Linked DNA regions of Homo sapiens. The protein of the gene in region 1 purifies or fractionates together with the protein of each later gene. This does not show direct contact. Each region holds a gene or a part of one and is shown in the gene's direction. Other genes may lie near its edges. The genes, in order: NAV1, PPA2, RIMS1, CGN and PPA1.

The links.
Region 2: the proteins of NAV1 (region 1) and PPA2 fractionate together in Homo sapiens (co-fractionation; one large-scale study listed by BioGRID). This does not show direct contact.
Region 3: the proteins of NAV1 (region 1) and RIMS1 purify together in Homo sapiens (co-immunoprecipitation; one large-scale study listed by IntAct). This does not show direct contact.
Region 4: the proteins of NAV1 (region 1) and CGN purify together in Homo sapiens (affinity purification with mass spectrometry, with the first as the bait; one large-scale study listed by BioGRID). This does not show direct contact.
Region 5: the proteins of NAV1 (region 1) and PPA1 fractionate together in Homo sapiens (co-fractionation; one large-scale study listed by BioGRID). This does not show direct contact.

What each region holds. Positions count from the first base shown.
Region 1 is NC_000001.11:201,822,034-201,825,285, forward strand, and holds part of NAV1 (neuron navigator 1), read left to right. Parts: 3' UTR 1-3,252. UniProt on the Homo sapiens protein: May be involved in neuronal migration.
Region 2 is NC_000004.12:105,471,148-105,475,901, reverse strand, and holds the start of PPA2 (inorganic pyrophosphatase 2, mitochondrial isoform 1 precursor), read left to right. Parts: upstream 1-1,839; 5' UTR 1,840-1,851; coding exon 1,852-2,008; intron 2,009-4,754.
Region 3 is NC_000006.12:71,892,633-71,896,713, forward strand, and holds part of RIMS1 (regulating synaptic membrane exocytosis protein 1), read left to right. Parts: intron 1-4,081. UniProt on the Homo sapiens protein: Rab effector involved in exocytosis. May act as scaffold protein that regulates neurotransmitter release at the active zone.
Region 4 is NC_000001.11:151,528,002-151,532,082, forward strand, and holds part of CGN (cingulin), read left to right. Parts: intron 1-1,348; coding exon 1,349-1,558; exon of another isoform or gene 1,559-1,563; intron 1,564-1,907; coding exon 1,908-2,114; intron 2,115-2,487; coding exon 2,488-2,745; intron 2,746-4,081. UniProt on the Homo sapiens protein: Probably plays a role in the formation and regulation of the tight junction (TJ) paracellular permeability barrier.
Region 5 is NC_000010.11:70,219,774-70,223,854, reverse strand, and holds part of PPA1 (inorganic pyrophosphatase), read left to right. Parts: intron 1-4,081.

The sequences.
Region 1 (3,252 bases):
TGGTCCGGGCTGCCCCTCACAAAAGCTTCTGCATCCACGTGGTAAGCTCCCATGGATGACAGGGTTCTGTATGATGGAGACTATTATTGCTATTGCTGCTAATTCCATGAGCTGTGAAGATCCCTAACCAACTCAGCTGTAACATATGCAATTCTGTGGTGGGAAGAGGCTGTGTGTCCAAGGATGGTGCTGAAATCACTGCCTTAAGGTCTCTGCTGTGCAGAATGAGGAGGCCCCCGAGCTGGCTGTTCTAACTTAGAAGGAAGAGAAGACTGGATGGGCCTGCTTGGGATCTAGGCCTCTTCTAAACCCTATCCTAAGCTCCAGTTCCATGGCAAGGCTCAGACTTTTAATGCCATCTTAATCTGATGGTTGAGCGCTTCACTCTATTTTCTGGTGCTGCCCAGCCAGTGCCTTCTGCCATGGATGTTACTGGCTACTTGAGAAAAAGGAGAGGGGAGAACCCCTTCTTTCATTCCAACTGCCTCCGACCCCAAAGGGATTCTTGGCTCTCTGGTAACCATGGATACCACCATGAATTTTATTTGGATCCTCAGCAGGTTGATTCTGGAGGCCTCATGCTATGACTTTTTATTTCTCTTCCTGGGATCCACCACCCTCTACTCTCAGCTGACTGCTGCATTTAGGCCAGGTCTCCAATTGCTTTCCTCCAGAAAGTGTGTTCCCGTCTAGTGAGGTAGTATTGAAGCCTCGGCTTTCCCTCTGGAGCCTGGGACCCTGTTTACAGTTGCACATCTGGGCCCCTCACTGTGGGGATTGATCATTCTCATGAAGGAATCACAGTTATATGGCAACTGCAGAAGGCTGAGCCTCCTCATGGTGCTATAACCCCTTGGGACACTCATCCAGACTTCTCTGAAGCAGAAAACCTGAGCTCCCCACTCACTGCCCTAGAATTTATGGCAAGGAGCAAATCTACAGCATTCTCTCCCACCTACGTCCTGCTTCTTGGTTGAGACTACTGGGATCCTTCAGAAAAGAAACACTGGGTCCCATAGCTAAATTCTCAACCGCCAGGCACCTTCAGAAGAATCCAGCCTAATACTGGAATTTGTGCTATTATCTTCCTCTCCAGCCCCCCAACTCCATCCCTCACCACAGTTGTCTAGGAAATGACATGAATTCAATATCTAATGTCAACCAATGGGGAGAGCCACAACTCCAGGAGAGGTTCCTGAGCTGAGTCCCTTAATTTCTGGATGAAGAAGACCAACAAGTTTTGTCCAATGTATTTGTTTCTCAGACCTTGCCTAGGCACTAAAAATAAAATACTAGGTCATTGGAGGCTAATGTGGGACCTGATGTCTGCGTGTGTGTGTGTGTGTGTGTGTGTGTGTGTCTCCCTCTCTCACACACACAAGAGCAGTTTGCTGTTGCTGTTTCCTACCTTCTGAGGCTTCAAAGTATTTTTTAAAATCTATGCTTTGTGGCAGCTCTACGGTGCTTATCTCTGTCTTTGTGTCAATCCTTAAGTACCCATGTCTTTTTCATGTCTAACCATTGGGAAGGTAGAGGCTGGCAGGGAAGACAAATCTGCTACAAGTCCATGGGAAGACCCTACAATGAAATGTTCATTGGTTGGTATACTGTTTTAGTCTTGAATTGCCAACTTTCCAACTGATCTATCCATATTCCTTAAGTACTAAAGACAAAATAGAGGGCTTCTTTTTCTCTCTTAATGTCTTGCCTTCTGGTTTTCCTGGTTTGCAAGACTAAGTGTACCTAATCTCACCATCTCTTCACTTCTAGCTCTCTGAAACAAGGGTCACACTACTCAGAGGGATAACCCCTTACAGTGGTCTGAGGAGTAACTATTTCCTAAAGTATTCTAAAAGAGTAGGAAGAGAGAAATGGTAGCCTGCTGCTTCTCACAGACACCTCACATCCTCACTTGGGATGGCATCCACATAGAAACCCTGCATTTAGGTAAAATTTGCCTGACTGAAGGGGACTCAGTCCTCCAAATCAAGGTCAAGAAGATATCTGCATGAGACCTTAAGAACTCTTTATTGCCATTATTTGGAGAGGGCGGGGGAATTGTCCTAATCACACATTTAACACAGGGAATAAGTGCTGAAGTGACCCAGATCACCAAGCGCAGTTCCTCATCATACTTTATTTTTGCTTTCCTTATTCCTTGGCACTGACTAAGCTAAAGTTAAGAAGCCGACTTCATAAGCCAACCCCTGTGATGGGATGGAAAAATGGGCTTTTGCAGAGGGTTTATTAATAGAGATGGATATACTACTCACAAGTTCTGGCTCATGGCTCCACTGAGAAGGCCATAGTAATAAAATGATCTTATGAACACTGTTCCCCAAAGGCCAAAGCCTGAAGATATTGCCCCTTATAATCCAATCAGCCTTATATTTTAATAAGTCCTGAATCAACCTGACTACGGATATATGGGGCCACCAGGGTGCATGGGTGCATGTCTGCTCAGCCTAGCCCTGGAAGTGAGCACTGCCGGCCACAGATCCTGGGAAAGGTGGTAGTAACCCAGAAGATGTAGCCTTGAAGGGAGGATACCTATCAAAATGCCAAAGCTGCAGGGACACGAAGACGGTTGAAAATTCAACCTGTGTATACTAGATCCTTCCAGTTTGATGGTTTGGTCATTCTTCTTCATGATTATACCATGGAGAATTTTCTGTGACAAGGGTGGTCATGGAAGTAAGTGAGTGATCCCCTGGTTTCTCATTCCTTAAAGCAGTGGTTCGCAAAGTATGGCACAAGACCAGCAGCATCAGCAGCCTTTGGGAACTTGTTAGAAACGAAAATTCTCAATCCCATCCCAGATCTGCTGAATCAGAAACTCTAATGAGAGGACCCGGCAATCCACGTTTTAATAAGCCCTCCTGGTGATTCTGATGCACACTAAATTCAACTGTTTTAAAGGGAAAGCCCTTTATAGTATTGGAGTTCCCACACTGAGAGGCTTTGGGGCCCAAAATAAGAAGGTTCTAGGTTGTCATTCAGACTTTAACATTAATTTCAAAGTCACCTTTCTCATGCTTCCTTGTGTTTCTGTTTTTCCATTTATGATTTTAACAAAGAAAGGTATGTGTGCTTTTGGGTGGAAGTTAGGAGAATGTTTGTGTCTTTCCTAGTTGAATACAACCTTCAGAGAAAAACCTTATGCCTTGGAAATTACTACCTGGCACACAAAGGGGCTTCAACAAGGAAAAGCAGTTGGAGGTCTCTTCCAGATTGCTCTTCTGCCGAATTATT
Region 2 (4,754 bases), on another chromosome or scaffold:
GGATGCATATAACTTGTTGTCAGTTACTAATAAAATATGTTGCCAGAGTTAAGAAAAGCTATTAGCAAGAGGGACCTCAGAACTTTATGCTGGATTATCTCAATAGATAACTTTTTTTTTTTTTTAAACAGGGTGTGGCTCTGCTGCAGAAGCTGGAGTGCAATGGCATGATTTTGGCTTCACTGCAACCTCCGCCTCTTAGGCTCAAACCATCCTCCTATCTCAGCCTCCCAAGTGGCTGGAACTACAGGCGTGTGCCACCCCGCCTGGCCGATTTTTGTACTTTTTATGGAGATGGGTTTTACCATGTTGCCCAGACTGCTGGTCTCAAACTCCTGGGATCAAGTGATCCTCCCACCTTGGCCTCCCAAAGTGCTAGAATTACAAGCATGAGCCACCACGCCCAGCCTGGATACTTTAAGTATCCACAGATCATTAGAAATTAGCCTACAACCCTGCCTCCATAGGAATTTGTCTTATTTAAATATCTAATCTTCAAAAGTTAATAGAAAAATTAAGCTTTTTTTCAACATAAACAAAAAAATTATACAACTCTGTGATATATGCACAGAAGAGATTTTCTCTCCTTTTTATGGGAGCATTTGCCTTATAGTTATGCCTATTCAAGTTGACACATTACAAAGGTACCACTGTTGACAAAAACATTTTAGGATCTATAATCTTAGTAGAGTGTCTCTAAGTAGCTAGTCACAATATCTCCTAGGAATCCTTTCTGGAACTTGGGTAGACCAGTATCTCAATTTTAATGATCACACGATAATTGGAGATGCTGAAAGAACCTGGGTGCCCAGTAGGAAAGTAGCCTAGATGATGATAGTCCCAAAGAAGATGGACTAGAAAAAAATAAAATGACACGTGGCAGACTACTGGTTGTTCTACAATATCCATTCTCCTGGATACTGGCCCAAACCATCCTCCTATCTCAGCCTCCCAAGTAGCTGGAACTACAGGCGTGTGTGCCACCCCGCCTGGCCGATGCGCGGTGGCTCACGCCTGTAATCCCAGGACTTTGGGAGGCCAACGCAGGCGGATCAATGGAGGTCGGGAGTTCGAGACCAGTCTGACCAACATGGGGAAACTGTCTCTACTAAAAATACAAAAATTAGCTAGGCGTCGTGACGCATGCCTGTAATCCCAGTTACTCAGGAGGCTAAGGCAGGAGAATAGCTTGAACCCAGGAGGCGGAGGTTGCAGTGAGCCGAGATTGTACCATTGCATTCCAGCCCAGGCAACAGTGTGAGACTCCGTCTCAAAAACAAAACAACAACAAAAAATAATAAAATAAAAGAAAGAATAAATAATCTCTACTGGGTTAGGAAATGGCCTTATGGAGAAGATGGCATTTGAGTAAGCTACTTAGGGTTTTTTGCTCTGTAAGTCGGTGTCAACGTCCCGTTTTCACGTGGTGGCCTGATCATTTTGTCTTATAGTGATGTCTTTGCGTGCATGTGCGCTCATCTCCTATATTGGACAGGGTCTAGAGCAGTTCCTGGCACAGAGTAATCACTCAATATTACATCACTATACTAAAAAATCATGATAGTAATTCTTGACGGGATAAATGAAGGCATGAATAAATGTATGAATTAACGAGTGGCAGTGAGCTCTTCAGGGGTGGTGGGTCTTGTCTCACTCGTCTTTGAGCTGCGGCCTCGCTGAGGGCATAGTGCGCACAACTGGCTGGTGTTCCAGATTCCACTGGCAGGGACCAGGATCGCAGCCCGAGCGCCGGGGCGGGAGGGATGACTCCGGACGGTAGGGGGCACCGGCGTGCGGCCCGGCCGAGCCCCCAGGTAGCTCCGCGCGCACAGCAGGACCGTCATTGACGCCATGAGCGCGCTGCTGCGGCTGCTGCGCACGGGTGCCCCAGCCGCTGCGTGCCTGCGGTTGGGGACCAGTGCAGGGACCGGGTCGCGCCGTGCTATGGCCCTGTACCACACTGAGGAGCGCGGCCAGCCCTGCTCGCAGAATTACCGCCTCTTCTTTAGTAAGTAGCTCCCGGAGGTTCGCCGAGCGGCGCACCGGAGAAACCTGGGTGGGGGATGGAATGGGGGACACTTGGGACGCCCCGCGCGGTCTCCCTTCTCTCTTTTTGGGGCCCTCAGCGGTAGCCGCGCGGTCCAGGCCACCTTACTTCCCGCGGGAGCGCGCACCGAGTCACGAGAACTGCCAGCGAGGAGGCGGCGGATCAAGACCCCAAAGCGGAGAGCAGAGGCGCAGGGCTGCCGGCTGGGGGGTAGATAGCGCCCTGTGCCCTGCCAGCCGCCCTCCCCGAGGGGTAGGCAGAGTGCAAGCGGCCACCCCGCGGCGGCCTGCAGCCATTAGCCGGCCCGGCCGCCGTTCCCGGTTCACACAACTCAGTGAGGAAGGGAAGGCAGAGCCCGCCCACACGCCGGCCTTCCTAGAGGCGTAAGAAACCTCCTACTGCGGGAGCTCCCTGACGTCGGAGAGGCAGGCGGAACTTTGCGGATGCCTAATCCAGCGCGTCTTCTTTTTTTGGAGGGACTCTGATGAAGGTTCTTTCCCCAGAAGCTTGACTTGGTACGCACAAGTTTACACCCTGAGTGTGATCCACCATCCAAAGCCTCGTTGGTTCCGGAGCAGCCCCTTTTCCTCCCCAAGCTGAACAAGCCCAGAAGGCTAAGCGACTTCGGGGGGGTCCCTGAGTTGCCGAGCTCAGAGAAAGGACCCAGGTCTTCGTGACTCATTGTTCCGTGTACCCCATTGTTTCACTGTGTACGTTAACCGTAACAGAAAATAGCGATGTCGGTCGCTTGCCTTCACTCCCCACTGACTGCAGAGCCTTGGAGTGGTAGTATCAAAGTGGGCCTTGCATTATCGCTCCCCTTTTCGGAGCACTGGCTCTGGAGGCTTTCAGTTCTAAGCAGGCCCTCGAGTTCTTCACGTCTTAACTCTGTGACCCCGGACGAGTTTAAGTTGCTAAGCCTTGTTTTTTCTCATCCGTAAAATAGGGCTGCAAGTATTACATGACATTATATATGTAAACTGATTAGTCACAGGGCCTAAAATATAAATTACTATTGTTAATACCGATAATCATTATAGATATTTGTAATTTATGAGAGATTTGCAGTTATGCTACATGAGTTTAGGGTCGAGGATTATTTTGTGGGAAAGAAGAGTTTGCCTAAAGTCGTGTGATTATAATGCAACTAGTACTAGAATTTCTATTTTCTTCAAAATTGGTTGCAGTTTTCACCCTATGCCACATATTTTCTTCTATCTTTGGTTAAGACTGATCAGGTGAACAGGAAGTCTCAAATTTCTGAATGGATTATGTTCTAAAAGGTTACCATGTGATGATTAATGGGAATAGTCAGAAAAAATTATGAAGTGGCAGTTCGCTTTTTAAGCAGATTGAAAAAAGGCCTGTCTACTGCAAGTATTCTAGATTTGCAATAAGTACGGTAATTAATAGATACCCAAATAATAAATATTTATGAAGTGTGCTAGACACTGTTAGGCATAGTACAGAGATTCACAATATTACTATAATTATGGAAAAAGTAAATACACTGGTTGAGCAAAAACAGGCTTGAGAAGCCAGGAGCGCACAGAGTAGTTGACCCAGTACCGGATTTGGAATGGGGAGTCCTAGGCCATAATCTTGGCTCTGCCGTTAACTCGCTGTGTGCTGTTGGGTGGGTGGTTACTTCAGTTCTTTCTCACAGAGCCAGTTTCTTCAGCTGTAAAATGAAGCTTTTGACCTTGAAACGATGATCCTCAAGGTCCTTCTCAGCACTGGTATTCCCTGAAGGCATTGGATGAATAACGGAGATTCTAACAGTCTCTGTTAAGACAGGATGTCGAATGGGGGCATTTTTGGGAGTATGTTGGCCTCTTATTGTTGGTTTGTTTCTTTAGCTGCAAATGTACTTAGGACTCATGATTTTTCTGTAACTAGAGTGCCACAAATAAAATACGTTTTTCATTCAGTTGGATAAACAGGGCAGGAAAGAAGAAAACCCGATTTTACTAAGGTAAATGGGCAAAAACTGGAAGAAAGGGGAGTGTGGTTTTGGAGAGGGTCCCGATGGTAAGATCCTGATTGGAAGGTGTGTTGGTTAAACAATTTCTGAACTAACCGCCAGATGGCATCACTGGCCAGGACTGTTTACTACCTGCTAGAAGGGGTAGGGCAAAGTGAAACGAAGCCACTCTAGGGCGAATGGGGTAAGGGGAAAGCAACGAATAAATTGCCCTTTATAAAGATGATCACAGATTGGATATTTATTACTCAGTGTGTCTGTATGCAGTACTAGGGTGGACTAATGTCTCACTTCAAAAAAAATATGAGTGTAGTATACTTGGCCTAAAATTGTTACTCAGTGTTACTAAAGTGTAATCATTTTCCACATCTCCAAATATATTCCAAGTCTCTGAAATACTAGTGCATTGGGAGGTAGAACATTTTCGAGCTTCATGTCTGTAAATGGTTTCTCTTTACTGTCATTCAGTAAAATCAGAATAAATGATTGATGTAATACTTAAAAAAAAATTGGTGTTAAACTTTGTAGAAAGAGTGAGACAGGATGATTAGGGGAAAGGGTATCCTGATGGGAATCATCAGGCCTCCTTGGTGCCAGCCCTGACCCTGTTAGTATCTTGCTGTCACTTCACCTCCCTGCATCTCATTTTTTAAAACCATGGAATGAGGAGATTGGACCAGATGATCATTTTCCAGACTGCTTAGTTGAACACAAGCATCCCAT
Region 3 (4,081 bases), on another chromosome or scaffold:
CCACCTAACCATGAGTTATCTTTGTTTGCCACTATTGTTCTGAATTTTATTTATTAAATAGGCTATTTCTAACAAAGTGTCATATGATATTTAATTCAACAAGACCATTGTTTCAGGTATTAGAATTAGGTCAGGCATTAGGCTGCTGGGGTAGAATAAAGGCGAATCCTCTGCTTACAGCCCAATGTTGGCTGAGTTCCTATCATTTTAAAACTGCCGTAGTCAGAAAAAGAGGTGAGTGCTGGATAGTTGGATAGAACACTGGACTAGATTCTGGTCTTAACATTATGACTTTTTATAGGTGTGAACATTGTCAAGATAATCCATCCAAGCATCAGATTTTATATGTAAAGTGGAATTTATAATGGCAGTCCTTCTAATCTGTGAAGCTTTAAAATGATAGTGGAGTCATCATATCCTCCAAATTGCTGTTTCCAAGAAAGGTGCCATTATTATGCTTATTTGTTAAAACTGTAGAACACCAAGATTATATTTTCCAGTAGTCTTTGAAGGTACTAGGGGGCTTGGGAAGATGAGCTCTTGGAGAAGAGCCCACCTATCCTTTCATGCTAGCAATGCAGTGTTGCCAGGGTTGCAGCTCCCAGTGTGAGAATTTGACAAGGAGTTAAAAGGTAAAATGAGTTCAGGGCTTGGTCTGAGACTATATTTACCTTCTTTCTTTTCTTTTTTTTTTTCCCCTCTCATTAAATAGCTCGTACATGTTTTTAGCACAAAAAGCAATGTGGGCAAAGTGATAAAGTTTGAAAGATCTAAAAGGCAATCCTAATTCAAAAATGAGAAGAGAAATTAGCTTGGGGTAATTTCCTCATCTTTTACAGAAAAAAATTTGGAGAAATACAGTAATAATTTTAGTGTCACTGGGTTTAATAAATTCTTCATTTTCAGAATTAGCTGAATAAGGGGTCATGTATATTTGTCAGGTAGTTTTCTTTCATGTCAGTTTACCATTGAGTGATGTAATAAATTGCATGTGTTTAAGAACTTTTTAAGATTCTTTATTGGATGCCTTAGGTTTTCTGTATTTATATTCTCACATTCTTACATCGAGTTTATATACACTTATTTTGACTAGATTACTTTTCTGTGGACAGCAAGAGGGGGTTATTCTGCAGAATTGATTTTAGATGTTTCTGCTTCTGTTGCAATATTGTGAAAACTTCCTGTTCATACGAATGCTTACTTAAAGGCAAAATAGAGCTGTTTAAAAGGAAGGTGACTGTACATGTTGATTTTCCTTTATCTGTTTATACCAATTTCCTGCTATTATTATGTATGGTAACCCCTTCTCTCAATTTTGAGTTTCAACCCGGATGACAAATTATATTGTCTTCCTCTTTTTAAATCTTGCTTTCTCTTCCCCAAATTCTTCATTTATAACTTCAGAAAATCAAGCAATTAACAGTGTTAAAATATATCTCAACAATAAGTAATGCAAGCAAGTGGTAGATATAAAATCTTGATCATTGTTTGGTAAATGGAGAACACTTTTTCTGAGAATGAGGTATTATCAGCCAGGCGTGGTGGCTCACTCCCGTAATCCCAACACTTTGGGAGGCCAAAGCGGGTGGATCACTTGAGCTCAGGAGTTTGAGACCAGCCTGGCCAACATGGTAAAACCCCGTCTCTACTAAAAATACAAAAAATTAACCTGGTATGGTGGAGTGCACCTGTAATCCCAGGTACCCAGGAGGCTGAAGCAGAAGAATCGCTTGAAACCAGGAGGCAGAGGCTGCAATGAGCTGAGATCCTGCCACTGCAGTCCAGCCTGGGCAACAGAGTGAGACTCTGTCTGAAAAAAAAAAGGAAATAAGGTATTCTCTTTTATGGAATCTCAACAGAATGATGCTTTTTATGGCAAAGCTGAATTTAAAATTTCAAAACATTTTTCAAATAATAGTAGTTATGAATTGCGACTTCATACAGGACTGTCTTTATGAGAATTCTCCTTTGAGCCTTGCAAAGAGCAGCCTGCAGTTTACCAAAGACATCTTTAATGTGTGAGAATTTATTTAAATAGATTTTGGGATGTAATATTTTGATATTCCTCTGAGTTTAGATGGCAAAATGAGGTAATGTTACAGAAAGTAATTGCATGTTATTTGTAATATTTTGATAATTCCTCTGATGTTTAGATAGTAAAATAAGGTAATGTTATAGAAAGTAATTTCATGCAATATGTAAGTAATCAATGCACTTAATTATAATATTAGCTATTTTAAAGCATAATGAATGAAAGATATTTTGTGTAATATAGAAAATAATACCATGCTAATGATTTATACATTATTTAGTATTTGTTTGTATTACCCATCATTATGCCAGGTAATTTAATTATCATCTGGAAGATGATAGTATATTTACATAGAGAAGGTATGTAAATTGAAAACCAATTAAGATATCTGTACTGTCATATAAAAGTCTTACACTACTTAGCTTCTTTTAATGGACTCTCATGCATAATATACACACTCACAAGTGGAAACTAATGTAGTAATCTTGATGGAGTTTTCTTGCTGTATTTGCTGGACTTTACATCGTCCATTTGATTAGTTCACAATTTACATACCTACATATGGCTTTCTGTACTTAAAGCAGTATTGCTTAATATTTGAAGACTATTTTTAATCTCAAGAATATATTTTAAAGTTGTAAGTTATTGGTGCACAAGCATTGTGTGCCATATTATTGTTTTTGTTGTTTAAACACAGCTTTTAACCAATGTAACAAGAAACTCTTTGAGGCCGGGTGCGGTGGCTCACGCCTGCAATCCCAGCACTTTGGGAGGCTGAGAAGGGCGTATCACCTGAGGTCAGGAGTTTGAGACCAGACTGGCCAATATGGCGAAACCCCATCTCTACTAAAAATAAAAAAATTAGCCGGCGTGGTGATGCATGCCTGTAATCCCAGCTACTTGGGAGGCTGAGGCAGGAGAATTTCTTGAACCCGGGAGGCGGAGGTTGCAGTAAGCTGAGATTGTGCCTCTGCACTCCAGCCTGGGTGATAGAGCAAGACTCCCTCTCAAAAAAAAAAAAAAAAAAAAAAAAGAAGGAAAGAAAGAAACTCTTTGATAGGATGTCTAGCTGCTAGCTGTTTTGTTTTCAATTTATGTGGTTTTTATTCTGGAAAAAATAGGCAGATTGTATATGAAGTACCTAGGGTATGTAAAAATCAATGTATTGGGTTTCTTTAACTATATGGTAGTATATATCCACATTTAGAGGTTCTATCCAGGTCAGAAAGATTACTTAGCGTATTGGTAGAAAGAGATGAAAACAAAAGTAAAGTAACCAAATGGCTTTTCCTTTTATATTTCACACAGCTTAGCAGATTTATCTTCCTTGGCTATCTCTGTATTGCAATATATTGGAGCTTAAGCCTTCTTTCCTAACCCCTTTGTTTCTGGGAAAAAATGAAGACATTTTACATCCTAGTATCTGGAATAAAGGGATATTGAAATGAACAGTCTCATTTATTTTAGATATTGAAATTTTAGTAAGATCCAAAATCCTAAAGAGATTCTAATTTTATATTATTCATGATTGTGACAGTTTTCATAAAAGTGTAATTTTGAAAAATAAAATACAGTAAAGTCTTCTTATATTGAGAATGGATATTTCAATTTACAGCTGTCTGCATACCCTAGGTCAAATCTAGCCACCTAATATATAGCAACCTGAAGTAAAAACTTGATGCTAGTCTGAAAAAGATATTATGGTCTAAGTATCATGCCAGACACAAGCATTAGAAAGGGATTTTATGGTATTTAGAGCTCCAAAAGCCTAAGCTTTAACAGTCACTATTGGGTACAACTATGATGGATAATCAGTCCAGGGGCTATCTAGTCCCTGACTTCCATAAATGCAGCATAGTTAAAGGCTATAGGAGGTCCACATGCAATAGAAGAGAAATAAACATGGTACCAGGCCACAAGAAGCAGATACTTTTGCTAGTAAGGTTGTGCAAATTAAAAAAAATATGACATACGCACTTTGGGAAAAGACTAAATACTCAAGAACACAAAATAGTGCAAATTGAGTGGTGGTTATGATAAGAGGTGAAG
Region 4 (4,081 bases), about 50 Mb from region 1:
GTGGAATGCAGTGGCGTGATCTCGGCTCACTGCAAGCTCCGCCTCCTGGGTTCACGCCGTTCTCCTGCCTCAGCCTCCCGAGTTGCTGGGACTACAGGCGCCCACCACCACGCCCGGCTAATTTTTTTTGTATTTTTACAAAAAAAATACACGTACTCAGTGTTTCACCGTGAAACATGGTTTCACCGTGTTAACCAGGTTGGTCTTGATCTCCTGACCTTGTGATCCGCCCTCCTTGGCCTCCCAAAGTGCCGGGATTACAGGCGTGAGCCACCGCACCCAGCCTCACACTGTATTTTTTTTAAACAACCAGCCTTACTAGCCATACCTTCATGTACTCTCCCTTCATGGTATTTTTTTTTTTATGGAGTTATATTTTACATGCTATAAAAGTCATCTTTGTGTACAATCCAATGGGTTTTTTTTTTCTTTTTGAGATGGAGTCTTACTCTGCTACCCAAGCTGGAGTGCAGTGGCACAATCTCGGCTCACTGCAACCTCTGCCTTCTGGTTCAAGCCATTCTCCTGCCTCAGCTTCCCAAGCAGCTGGGATTACAGGCACACACCACCACGCCCGGCTAATTTTTGTATTTTTGGTAGAGACAGGGTTTCACCATGTTGTCCAGGCTGGTTTTGAACTCCTGACCTCAGGTGATCCACCCGCCTCAGCCTCCCAAACTGCAGGCATGAGCCACTGGCGCCTGGCCCCCAGTGGTTTTTATTATATTAACAAAGTTGTACAACCATCATCACTATTTAATTACAGAACATTTTCATTACCCCCTCAAAGGCGCCAAACCCATTAGCAATAATTCCCCCCACCCAATGGCAACCACTAATCTACTTTTTGTCTCTGGATTTACCTATTCTGGATATTTAATATAATTGAATCCTATAATATATGGGCCTTAAGGGTCTGGCTTCTTTCACCTAGCATAGTGTTTTCAAGGTTTGTCCATGTGGTAGCAAGTATGAGTACTTCATTCCTTTTTATGGCTGAATAACATTCCACTCTGTGGGTATACCGTGTTTAGTCCAGTCATCAATTCGTGGACATCTGGGTTGTGTATCCATCTGGGCTATAATGAATAATGCTACTATGAACATTCGCGTATAAGTTTTTTTGTGAACACATATTTTCGGTTCTCTTGGGTTACCTAAGAGTGGAATTGCTGGTGATATAAATGGTAAATCTGTGTTTAACTTTTTGAGAAACTGCCAAACTACTTTCCAAAGTGGCCACATCAGTTTTTATTCCCTTGGCAGTGTATGAGAGTTTCAGCTTCTCCACATTCAGGTATCTTAGTCTGGCTCTGGGTGCCCCATCACCATTCCCGTTTCCTTCCAGGAGCTGCTCCGGACACAGGAGGAGCTTAAGGAACTGCAGGCAGAACGGCAGAGCCAGGAGGTGGCTGGGCGACACCGGGACCGGGAGTTGGAGAAGCAGCTGGCGGTCCTGAGGGTCGAGGCTGATCGAGGTCGGGAGCTGGAAGAACAGAACCTCCAGCTACAAAAGACCCTCCAGCAACTGCGACAGGACTGTGAAGAGGCTTCCAAGGCAAGGGGAGTGGGCACAGGGCTTAGGAGGTGGAGGCTGAGGGTGTCTGGAGGGCTGAGGAGCCAGAGGGTGTGGAAAGTTACCTGTCATGGGTATGTACTGACCAGCTCCTGGGTCCTAGGCATGTGGTTCAAAGAAGCCAGGATTTGGCAGGGGGAGGATACCTGTATCTGTGTAGGGGTGGGATTCTCAGAGAAGCGTCTGGCTGGTGGCAGCTGCTCTCTTTAAGCCTCATTCTTATGGGCTGTCTTTGGGATGGCTTTCCTGGGTGTGGTCAATGGCCCCAAGCCCTGGGGTCTGAGCTGCCACGCCCTGGGGTCTGAGCTGCCACCCCCTGAACCGTCCTTAGGCTAAGATGGTGGCCGAGGCAGAGGCAACAGTGCTGGGGCAGCGGCGGGCCGCAGTGGAGACGACGCTTCGGGAGACCCAGGAGGAAAATGACGAATTCCGCCGGCGCATCCTGGGTTTGGAGCAGCAGCTGAAGGAGACTCGAGGTCTGGTGGATGGTGGGGAAGCGGTGGAGGCACGACTACGGGACAAGCTGCAGCGGCTGGAGGTCAGTGGTTCTGCCCTCCCAGCCCTCTCTGCTCAGCCCTGGTGAAATACTCCTATGCTAAGTAGTTAGCCATCAGTTTCACTTTGCCCTTAGTGTGCATCTGTTTTGCCTCCCCAAACCTGCTCTGTTAACCTTGGGTTTATTTCCTGGTGTATACTTTGGCGCCAATGTTCAGTCTTTGCACTGGTAGTTTTGTTTCTTATTTCTCACCCTTTGCTTGCTCTATGTGTCCTGATTTCTTTGCTAGGAGCCTGTTTTCATTGCACATCATTTTCATAAATACCTCCTTTCTCCTGCCCAGCTACCCACCTCCAAATGACTTGAACCCAAGTTTTACCTTTTCTCAGTCCAACCCTGCTTCCCTACCTCCCAGGCAGAGAAACAGCAGCTGGAGGAGGCCCTGAATGCGTCCCAGGAAGAGGAGGGGAGTCTGGCAGCAGCCAAGCGGGCACTGGAGGCACGCCTAGAGGAGGCTCAGCGGGGGCTGGCCCGCCTGGGGCAGGAGCAGCAGACACTGAACCGGGCCCTGGAGGAGGAAGGGAAGCAGCGGGAGGTGCTCCGGCGAGGCAAGGCTGAGCTGGAGGAGCAGAAGCGTTTGCTGGACAGGACTGTGGACCGACTGAACAAGGAGGTGGGGCATGGGGTATTCTGGGCCTTTAGGAAGAGGCCCAGCTCATCCAGAAGCTGGCCTGAGAGGACAGGGGCTTGGGGGAGAGGGGTTAGTCAGAATGTGTGATGATTATGGCCAGGTGCGGTGACTCACTCCTGTAATTCCAGCACTTTGAGAGGCTGAGGTAGGCAGATACCCGAGGTCAGGAGTTTGAGACCAGCCTGGCCAACATAGCAAAACTCTGTCTCTACTAAAAATACAAAAAATTAGCCGGGCTTGGTGGCTCATGCCTGTAGTCCCAGCTACTCAGGAGGGTGATGCAGGAGAGTCACTTGCACCCGGAAGGTGGAGGTTGCAGTGAGGCGAGATCATGCCACTGCACTTCAGCCTGGGTGACAGAGCAAGACTCTGTCTTAAGAAAAAAAAAAAAAGAATGTGTGATGTTTGCTTTCCTCAAGTTCATTGTTAGGAAGACCAAGACCAAATCTTCTGGAAGGGGCATCCTTCCTACCTCCCCTCCATGTTTTTGCTCTTTCCCTTACATCCTATTCCTTTATGGTCTTCATTCTTGGAGAACATCTCCTGGGATTCTCCCTTGGGAGTCTACAAAACCTAAATACAAGAATCTTCAATGGCCAGCTTGGGCAACATAATAAGACTCTGTCTCTACTTAAAAATAAAATTAGCCTGCTGTGGTGGCTTGTTCCTCAGTTTCTCTTTATAGATGGGGAATTGAGACCCAGAGAAGATAAGTAACTTGCCTATGGTTGCTAATTAGTGGTAGAGCCAGGATTTGAACCCAGACATCTGTATTCCCAGCTACTCGGAAGGCTGACGTAGGATTGCTTGAGCCCAGGAGGTTGAGGCTGCAGTGAGCTGTGACTGCCCCACTGCGCTACAGCAAGAGCCTGTCAAAAAAAAAAATCTTCATTGGTAGAATTTTAAATTTGGGTGAGGGGAAGGAGAAAAGAAAGAAAAAAGAAAAGGAAATAAATTGCTTTTGCTGCTAAGGTTCTCCTCCCAATCTTTTTGTAAAGCAAGAGCAAACACGTAATATGTTACATCAATTCTAAAGTGCACATTTTATCATTTGTCAATGAAAAATGCACATCTTATCATTTGTCAATGAAAAATGCACATCTTATCATTTGTCAATGAAAAATGCACATCTTATCATTTGTCAATGAAAAATGCACATTTTATCATTTCTGAAATAGAGTTGTGTCTTATACCTTATGGTATGTTATAGTTTAATTGGCATATTTTTCTTAGTGGTACGCCGTATAATCATTGGCACCTTGGGTTTGCTGAAATGGTCATTTAAGGCTTACTTTGTATCAGGCACTGTTGTAAGTAC
Region 5 (4,081 bases), on another chromosome or scaffold:
AGATCCAGCTAAGTAAAAGCTGAAACCAGTTGGGATTAAAGAAGAAGGAATGAATTTGTAACTGGGTAGTACGAAATTTCTTAAAATCAGTATTTTTTAAGTGCGTGAATATTGGAATCATTAGAATGCATAAAAACAGTAATAGTTTTTATAGCAACTCTGTTGCTATAAAATTCATTGAATTTCTCATATCAGTTGCCCTGAAAAATCCTAAATATCACTGTTGTTCACCTAGTAGCAACTCTTTGAATTGTAGCCAGATGTCTAGAAGAAGGTTGTTCTTTAGTAGTAATTCCTGCTAAAGTATGTGGAACACCCCCTCCTTACAAGTACAGAGCTGGGCAGGATGGCTTGCACCTGTAGTCCCAGCTACTAGGGATGCATAGGCAGGAGGATCACTTGAGGCTAGGAATTAGAGACCAGCCTGCTCAACATAGTGTGACTTCATCTCCAAAAACATAATTAAAAAACAATTAGCCAGGTGTGGTGGTGCACACCTGTAGGCCCAGCTACTTAGGAGGCTGAGGCAGGAGGATTGCTTGAGACCAGGAGTTGGAGGCTGCAGTGAGCTATGATTGCGTCACTGTACTCCAGTCTGGATGACAGAGTGAGACCCCGTCTCTCTCTCTCTCTCTCTTTAAAAAAATGTTTTTTAAGAGACAGGGTCTTGCTATGTTGGTCAGGTTGGTCTTGAACTCTTGGCCTCAAGCGGTCCTCCTGCCTCTGCCTCCCAAAGTGCTAGGATTATAGACGTTAGTCGCCACGCCTGGCTGAGACAAGTATTACTACAGCATCTACATGCATTTGAAAGTGTGCTAGTATTCCATGCATAAAAAATGATGAGTTCATGTCCTTTGTAGGGACATGGATGAAGCTGGAAACCATCATTCTCAGCAAACTGTTGCAAGGACAAAAAACCAAACACCGCATTTCTCACTCATAGGTGGGAATTGAACAATGAGAACACGTGGACACAGGAAGGGGAACATCACACACCGGGGCCTGTTGTGGGGTGGGGGGAGGGGGAAAGGATAGTATTAGGAGATATACCTAATGCTAAATGATGAGTTAATGGGTGCAGCACACCAACATGCAACATGGCACATGTATACATATGTAACAAACCTGCACTTTGTGCACATATACCCTAAAACTTAAAGTATAATAATAAAAAAAAAGTGTGCTAAACATTGATTTTACAGATGAGTCACTCACCCCAAGCTGTAGCCTGAGGCCTACAAACTGGAAGTACCTGATTTAGCAGGCGAGAATTCTACCCCTGAACCACCAATGCTACCAGCAGGAAGTACCTGATTTGGAAATCCAACTCTTTGGGAGTTAAAAGAACTTTTATTTTGTTCATTGCTAGTCTTCGGAGCCTAGAAAAGTGCCTGGCACATCCTGGTGGTTCACAACAAATATTTGTTGAAAAAAATCAATGAATTGACTCTGGCTTTTGCAGGTACTCCTTGTTGTTTTTCGCCCAGCTAATTTCTTTTTTTTTTTTTTTTTTTTTTTTGAGACGGAGTCTTGCTCTGTGGCCCAGGCTGGAGTGCAGTGGTGTGATCTCAGTTCACTGCAACCTCCGCCTCCCAGGTTCACGCCATTCTCCTGCCTCAGCCTCCCGAGTAGCTGGGACTACAGGCACCTGCCACCACGCCCAGCTAATTTTTTTGTATTTTTAGTAGACACGGTTTTTCACTGTGTTAGCCAGGATGGTCTCGATCTCCTGACCTCATAATCCGCCCACCTCGGCCTCCCAAAGTGCTATGATTACAGGTGTGAGCCACCACCCCCCGGCCTCACCCAGCTAATTTCTAAAAAGCACCAGACCTTCAAGCTTTTGTTCGCAGCAGAATTCTCTTACCATTTTCTGAAGGATGTTTTCTTCCTTGTTATTTTTTTCCTTCCCATTAATTATGTAGATTTATGTTATTAGGTAATACTGTTTTGAGGATCTATACATATTTGTCATTTACTGCTATTAAAGTGTTCAATATAGTTTCTAAACTTTGAATTAGTTATTTTAGCTCTATCTGCTATATCTTTCTTGAAGCAATGTATTCATTTGGTGGTGTTTTAACGAAATTAACAGCTAATCTTGGCGAGCTCTTCAGTTGATCTTTCATGTCGTAACAGCTCCATCTTGTGAATCTTTAGGGTACTGCTGCTGGAAACCGAAAGCCCTGACTTGTTCTTTTCACAGACCTACAGATCTCTCGTTTTTACACCTGAGAAGTGGACAAAATACTTGAAAACCTAGTGGACAAGGTGAAATTTAGTCAAAGATTGGTTCTGAGGTTTTCTACCCAGGATTAATAATTAGTGTTACATTTTCTAAACCATCTGGTTATTTTAGAGGGAAACAGGGATAGAGCAGTTTCTTCAGTCCTAGATTTAAGTAATATCTCCATTCTTTTGGTTTTTATGTTGTATTGGGTAAGTGAGGTATCAGGAGGCTTGGAGCAGAAACCTATGGATGCTTTAGTCTCCCATGGTTTCAGCAGGAACTTAAAATGACAGAAGTTCTACACTTTTGAATCAAAATCAGTGTAGTTTTTCTGCTTGGTAGCAGCAGGTAATTATTGACTTGAAACCTTTGACTTATTCCCTTGTGGCTTATCAGTTCCCGTTTTTTGATGGAAAGTAGCAAAGAAGTAATTCTAAAGAGTGGTGTAACCAAGTGATTTTCATTTTAAGTTAAGTTCTTAAAATGTACTTTACCAGTCTGGGGTAACATGGCAAAGCTCCATCTCTACAAAAAAAAAAAAAAAAAAATATATATATATATATATAAATTATATATATATATAATTTATATATATATTATATATATAAATTATATATATGTTATATATATAAATTATATATATAGTATATATATAAAAATTATATATATTATATATAAATTATATATATAGTATATATAAAAATTATATATATTATATATAAATTATATATATAGTATATATAAAGTATATATTATATATATAAGAATTATATATATAATATATATAAAAATTATATATATAATATATATAAAAATTATATATATTATATATATATAAATTATATATATTATATATATATAAATTATATATATTATATATATATAAATTATATATATTATATATATAAATTATATATATTATATATATATAAATTATATATATTATATATATATAAATTATATATAATATATATATAAATTATATATATTATATATATATAAATTATATATAATATATATATAAATTATATATAATATATAATTATATATATTATATATATAATTATATATATATTATACATAAAAATTATATATAATACATATATAATTTATATATATAAAATTATATAATATATATAAAAATTATATATATATGCACATACACGCACACACACACACATATATACATATACACACACACACAATTAGCTGGATGTGGTGGCATGCATCTGTAGCTCCAGCTACTCAGGAGGCTGAGATGGGAAGATTGCTTGAGCCAGGGTGGTTGAGGCTTCAGTGAGTCAAGCTCATACCACTGCACTCCAGCCTAGGTGGCAGAGTGAGACCTTGTCTCAAAAAAAAAAAAAAAAAGTACTTTTTATAAGCATAATTGCAGGCCAGGTGCGGTGGCTTACACCTGTAATCCCAGCACTTTGGGAGGCTGAGGCGGGTGGATCACCTGAGGTCAGGAGTTTGAGACCAGCCTGGCCAACATGGCGAAACTCCATCTCTACTAAAAATACAAAAATTAGCCAGGTGTAGTGGCACGCCCCTGTGTTATCCCAGCTACTCAGGAGGCTGAGACAGTAGAATCACTTGAACTCAGGAGGCAGAGGTTGCAGTGAGCCAAGATTGTGCCACTGCACTCCAGCCTGGGTGACAGAAAACAGTAATTGCAGATTTAGCTTCATCTGTGCCCTTTGTAGAGGCTAAAAACTGAAAAACTGCAGTTAAAGTTCTATTCCGTGAAAAAAAATAGTATTCTGAATAATTAAAGCTCAAGTTTAATTAAATAACCTATGGCATATTTAACTCCAGTGTGCAAAATGGGTTGGCAAAGTATGGTTTGTT